2 linked regions of the Homo sapiens genome follow. The protein of the gene in region 1 interacts with the protein of each later gene in a pairwise test. Each region holds a gene or a part of one and is shown in the gene's direction. Other genes may lie near its edges.

The links.
Region 2: the proteins of ZBTB16 (region 1) and FHL5 interact in binary tests that used the Homo sapiens proteins (3 or more experiments, as listed by UniProt).

The regions. Positions count from the first base shown.
Region 1 is NC_000011.10:114,254,488-114,257,265, forward strand, and holds the end of ZBTB16 (zinc finger and BTB domain-containing protein 16), read left to right. Parts: 3' UTR 1-2,278; downstream 2,279-2,778. UniProt on the Homo sapiens protein: Acts as a transcriptional repressor. Transcriptional repression may be mediated through recruitment of histone deacetylases to target promoters. May play a role in myeloid maturation and in the development and/or maintenance of other differentiated tissues.
Region 2 is NC_000006.12:96,615,128-96,619,126, forward strand, and holds the end of FHL5 (four and a half LIM domains protein 5), read left to right. Parts: intron 1-481; coding exon 482-645; 3' UTR 646-3,499; downstream 3,500-3,999. UniProt on the Homo sapiens protein: May be involved in the regulation of spermatogenesis. Stimulates CREM transcriptional activity in a phosphorylation-independent manner.

The DNA.
Region 1 (2,778 bases):
CATTGAGCTTACCTCCCTATAGGGGAGAGAGCAGAGGTGGGGCAGCCTTTCGACTCTGTCCATGACGGCTGGCAGGGTCAGGGTAGTTTCTGGGCCTGCTTCCCGGCAAGCCGAGCTAGGGTGAAAACTGGGGGCGCACCAGGATGTGAGACAGAAAAGCAGAAGATGAGACTCTGTTCATTCACTTTTCCTAGGCCCATCCTGTGGTCATCTTTCCCCCTCCCATCATACCTCCTCCTTCCTGGAGCCTCTGCCGGCTTGGCTGTAATGGTGGCACTTACCTGGATATTTCAGTGGGAGGATGAAAGGCGAGACTCACCCTACGCGGTGGGACAGATGGGGAGAGGAAAAAGGCAGAGATGGCCAGGAGAGGGGTGCAGGACAAACCAGAGAGGTTGGGTCAGGGGAAAAGGGTGGGGAGAAAGAGGGGTGCAGGCCCTGCAGGCCGGTTAGCCAGCAGCTGCGGCCTCCCCGGGCCCTTGGCATCCAACTTCGCAGACAGGGTACCAGCCTCCTGGTGTGTATCATAGGATTTGTTCACATAGTGTTATGCATGATCTTCGTAAGGTTAAGAAGCCGTGGTGGTGCACCATGACATCCAACCCGTATATATAAAGATAAATATATATATATATGTATGTAAATTATAGCACTGAGGGCCCTGCTGCCCTGCTGGACCAAGCAAAACTAAGCCTTTTGGTTTGGGTATTATGTTTCGTTTTGTTATTTGTTTGTTTTTGTGGCTTGTCTTATGTCGTGATAGCACAAGTGCCAGTCGGATTGCTCTGTATTACAGAATAGTGTTTTTAATTCATCAATGTTCTAGTTAATGTCTACCTCAGCACCTCCTCTTAGCCTAATTTTAGGAGGTTGCCCAATTTTGTTTCTTCAATTTTACTGGTTACTTTTTTGTACAAATCAATCTCTTTCTCTCTTTCTCTCCTCCCCACCTCTCACCCTTGCCCTCTCCATCTCCCTCTCCCGCCCTCCCCTCCTCCCTCTGGCTCCCCGTCTCATTTCTGTCCACTCCATTCTCTCTCCCTCTCTCCTGCCTCCTGCTGCCCCCTCCCCAGCCCACTTCCCCGAGTTGTGCTTGCCGCTCCTTATCTGTTCTAGTTCCGAAGCAGTTTCACTCGAAGTTGTGCAGTCCTGGTTGCAGCTTTCCGCATCTGCCTTCGTTTCGTGTAGATTGACGCGTTTCTTTGTAATTTCAGTGTTTCTGACAAGATTTAAAAAAAAAAAAAAAGGAAAAAAAAAGAAAAAATGAATTTACTGCTGCAGGTTTTTTTCTCTCTCCATGTGTCACTAAGTGAAGTTTGTGCCTTCTATAGCAAAGAGAATATTTTTTACATCCTACTAACAGTAGATTTTTTTGTAGTGAACATTTTTTGTATTTTTATTTATAAGTCTCATAAGAAAAATAGCAATGTTCAGTTGTATACCTTGAATCTGCAGTTAGAAGAGAATAAAGTTAATTCAGTTGTCTCTCGCTTGAAGCGTCCCACCTTTTTATTGAAGTACTTGGTTTTGTTTTGTTTTTTTTTTTTGTTTTTTTTGCCTTTTCTTGTGTGGGGAACATGGTAGAGGAATTAAGATTTTTGTGTGGGGACTGGGAAAAAGAAAGCTCTGTATTACACATATTTAGACTTATCTATGTGTCACTTTTATGCCACATTTACAAGGCACAGATGCACTGAATAACATTTTTCTAATACTTTTTAGTTAAAAAATGTTAAATACGTTAATATCGTATGATCCTTGGTACAATGTGCTAGGTAGGCACTTGTTCACTTATTCAGCAAGACCACCATGTACCAGTTACTGTTGTCGGCGCTGGGAATTACAGCAAAGGACAAACAGACAAACCCTGGCCGCCCTGGGGCTACCATGCTAGCGGGCCGCTGAGTCGGAATCCGTGGCTGTGTTAGGATAACTTGCTCAGGATTGCACGGCTGGTGAGCAGCAGTCAGAACTCCATCCACCTCTCCTGATACCAGGCCAGGTTCCTTTACTCCAGAGTTCTCAAAGCAGGGGTCTCACGTCTTCTTTAGTCTTTAGAGAGACATTTTCAACTGACTCCTTAGTGGCTAAGCAAGCTTCAGAAATTTCTCAACAAGAAGCTTCCACACAATCAAAGGTCCCTGCCTGCGTCTGTAGCAGCCAAGAGCTGTTAAGAAAGGAGATTGGAGCAGGTGGCCTTGTGCAGGGGAGGGGATGGGTGGGAGGTGGCCGTGCAAGCTCTGCATTGTCATGGACGGAATAAAGGATTTCCACAACACTCAATGGGTACGATTCCCTCCCTGTCTCATCTCCCTGTGTCTGGGCCAAGCCCTCTTCTCTGGCCCTTTCCCCGTTCCTCTTATCGGGGATAGAAGCATCGCCCTATCTTTAGCTGTAAAACCAAAGCCACTCAATCCTAGACGTGGTGCTTCAGCACCTCTGCCTGAGGCCGTCCTCACTGCCTGTCTCTGACCAAAATAACCCCTCTCCTCCTCAAGACCCAGGGGACACAGCCATGATTGTCGTGCTGGGTCACTCCGGTAGGGTAAACCCACACCGAGCATCAGGCCTGGCCTCCAGCATCACCAGGAGTCGCAGGGAGCCATCACCCCACGCGCCACCGCCACCCACCTGGGGAGCCAAACAAGGCCTGGCCTGCCAGGGGTGGCACTGGGAGGGTTACCTTTCAGCCCTGTTCTCCTGGGGCCAAGACCCGGGTCTGTCTGACCCTGGGGTTGCTGAGCAGAAACCGCCTGGAGCTACCCCTACCACCGGACA
Region 2 (3,999 bases), on another chromosome or scaffold:
ACTCATTACAACATTGGACATCAAACTAGGAAGCATACATTTATTTCCTTTTATCTTCATTTTGCAGCTAAGAAAACTTAAAGTCATATAGAGAAAAAGGGGAAATGTATTCATACTTAGATATCTCTGACTTCACAACCTATACCTTCTTTCCACTATGCTACACTGTATTGTCTTATCTGGCTTAGACAACCTTATCTGTTTCCAAAAATACCTGACTTGCATATTAGCATTCTGCCTTCTTCTGTTGATTATGGCAGAATTTGGCTGTGAATCTGGTTGGGTGGCATAGGTGTAACTTTCCTACAGTGGATAGTTCCAGATGGACACAGGGCCAGGAAGCAGCATTCTTTTTTGGGTTATTTGCCTCTGCGTTGTTTTGCTCATAGCTCTATCTCCAGTTCCTAGAGGAGCATCTGCTAGAATGCTCAATCTGTTCCTTGAAAGGATAGATTAATCTTTTTCTCCAATTCCTTTACAGGTCTCACAGGTGCCAAGTTTATCTGCTTTCAAGACAGCCAGTGGCATAGCGAATGCTTTAACTGCGGGAAATGCTCTGTCTCCTTGGTGGGTAAAGGCTTCCTGACCCAGAACAAGGAAATCTTCTGCCAAAAATGTGGCTCCGGAATGGACACTGACATCTAGGAGACAGTCCTTGCCCACCTAAAATCCATTTTGCCTTCGTTGTCACTAAAGCCAGAACTCAGTTGCGGTCTTATTTTTGACTTAAGTTTTAGAAAATATTCATGTAGTTTAGAGTGGAAAAGTTTTTGCACACATTTTGATCGAACTATATTCTAAGCACACAAAAAGCACAGTAGAACAGAAATGAATATATGCTAAATCACAAAGACAACTCTCCTTGCAAAATACTGCACTCTGCTGTTAGAAGCAGAGGAAAATATCTCTTCATAATCAAATATATGACATATACCTAGGAGCTGTGGATGTAATTACTGAAGAATGAGGTTTTTCATACCTGAAGAGTAAAAGAAAAACTAAGAGATCAAACTGAGAGGTATACATGAGGCTAGTGTTTGCATTCCTGGTTATATGTAATGTGATAAATTAGCTATGAATGGTAAAAGAACAAAACTGATCAGAGTAAATTCATTAGCAATTATCACATTTAAGAATTGTTATCATTTAAAAATCATCCTTTTTTTCACACATACTGACTGTAGAATTAAAAAACAAAGCTACAATTTGCCCTCATACACACTGCTTCCACAGCTTGCTAGTTCTGTGTTTACTCAATGGAATATGAGAACTGAGGACATTATGGCTCTCATAATCTGCATAGGTATAAAGAGGATCATTTCTACCTAGGGATAGCCAAAGCATGGGTTTCAACACGTTTTGTATTAAATATATTTTCAAAGTCCACAGTGATTTTTCTAAACGCTTACAGATTCCATGAAATAAAAGTCTATTCTTTCAAGTGGAGCTAACCAGGATAATCTTTGTCCCCAAAGGCAAACCTTTAAAATAAATAGATCATTAAATCTTCACTTGTGGAAATGAGTTTTAGGGAAGGGATTGAGTCTTGGAACATGACTTTCATCCAGATATCTAACGACATAATAGAATGCATAATTAGCTCTGTGCCTCATGCATTATTGCCTTCTAAAATTACATAAATGATTAATGGGCAGACATAAAAGTGGGCTTTAAAGAAATCTAGTAATAATAAAAGCTGAAAAAGAATAATTCACTGCTGATAATTCAGAACCTGCAAAGCAGCACAATAGAGTAATGTGGGCTGTAGGCGAGCCCTCCCCACTCTTCCCCCACACCTGTGCCACACCCCCCTTACCCCAAGCCAGTTGTGCCCCCAGTTTCAATCTCCTGCATAACCAGGAGGTGCACTCCTAACCCTAAGCAACTGTCCTATAAGTCAGTCAGTGTTTATTGATCACACAGGAAGTAAAGAGCCTTAGTGAGAAGTCCATCACCAGGTTTATCTTTATACCAGACTTTAACTGATCATGACCCTATCTTGCTACCCCTGGATATTTTCCACATTACTTGGGACAAATGGAAAGCAACCTCTGCTCTCCATGATCTGTTTTCACATTGGTTATAGCATCTCTTGGATGGAGTAGAGGGAGGTCAGGAGAAGAAGCCCACATAGATATATAACTGTCTTCTCTCAGATTACACATTATAGCATTAAAGGTTTTGATTAAAATCTAATTGTAAGATACTGCTGATTACAATTACCAAAATAGCATCACAGGAGATTCAATTAAAATTGTTATGGAAATAATTTTTGAAATAGTTTAAAATGCAAGAATATTCAGCGATGTTAATAATTTAGAGATACTAATAAGTGTTCTGCTAGATAGACTATTTGAAAACTATAAATGTATTTTTGGATTAACAATGCCAAGGTATTTTTTCATATTCACATTGAAAAATACAGGCAAAACTATCAATATTTTTTCTGCATTATATGAAATTTCACAGGTAGAACTAAATCTATGATATAGAAAATAATAGCACATTACACATAGAGAAAACCAAGCCACTTAGGTTTAGATAGATATATAACATGTAACATCTTCTCTGTTAACCAATTATAGATACATATACAACATGTAATGTTTTCTTAGTTAAACAATTGGAAATGTTTAGGCATTTTACTGTGTGGGGGCAGTGAGTATGCACATGATCAGACTTGTATTCTAGCTTTACAATTAAAATTCACAGAATCATTTCCTAAAGATTTTATTATCCTTTCATAAGTATAAATATATATACTTTTACATATAAATAGTTCTGCATTTAGAAGGTATCCTACACATCAAACATCCATTAAACATGTACTATGCCAAAAGTTAGAGCTTATACTGTTGTGGGTCTGGAGTTGTAGGAGGATGGATCATGGTATGGAAATGCAGAAGTGCCTGATGCAAAGATCCTTGCCTGCAGGTTAAACAAAGCACCACATATGTAGACATAGCACACATATGCAAAACAACTAAGAAAAAGACCTCCTTAGGTCTTTGCGTAACACACACAAAGATAAATGTAAAAATTATATAGTTGATTTATATGGTTTATGTAACAAAGAGAAAAACTCCTTAATGGACTTATCCAAAGATGAAATGGACTGACTCAGGAAACAGTGGGCTCCCAGTAATTCAAAGGTGACATCTGCATGGGCAGGAAAGAAGTTAAAAGCAAATCCCATGTGCCAATAACAACCAGATGGCTTGGAAGTAGCAGAGACTGCCGAAGAGCAGGAGAAAATAAGATTGCTAAAAGAGAAAGAGTCAGAGGAAGGGAGAATATTAACTCTTAGGATAAAAAGTGACATAACCGGCCATAGAAAGTTACCAACTGTTCATAAGTAAAGGAAGAAAATAATTATTGTAGTGTTTGAGGAAAATTATGCTTTTGATCCTTTGTGGAATAGAACCAAAGAAAGCAAGGTTCCAAGGATTAAGTTTCTTACTGAAGGAATAAGTTTGGTTAATGGCTACAAAAGTGAAAAGAAAGAGGAAGAAGGCATTGAAGGCCACGAGTTACATTTGTTGGCAAAGATGAGTATGCAAGTCAACAAGTCAAAATATTTTATTTTGTCATGTTGGGGATTAAAGATGACAAAAGAAGCAAAAATGTATTTCTGCTTCAATAATAATGACTAGGAAGCCCAAGGGTTCAATTTTAACTTGGCATTATAAAAGTGTTAAATTGGGACAAACTAGCTCCACTGGTTAAGTAAAATGTGGTTATGTTACAATCCAGGCTTCAAAGCTTACATCGTTGCTATAACTTAAAAAAAAGAAACACTAGATTGTTCATTAGAGTAAAATATTGGCCTACCATTATGAAAAATGCATAACACTAATCACAAATGGTTAAAAAAAACTGCCAAATTTAATATCACAAATGAAAAGTCAATCCAAAAACACATTTCATGTTAGCAATACCATTTTTGAATTTAAGAAAAAAATAACTTTTAATCTACTTGGCATATTGTTAATTGTCTGT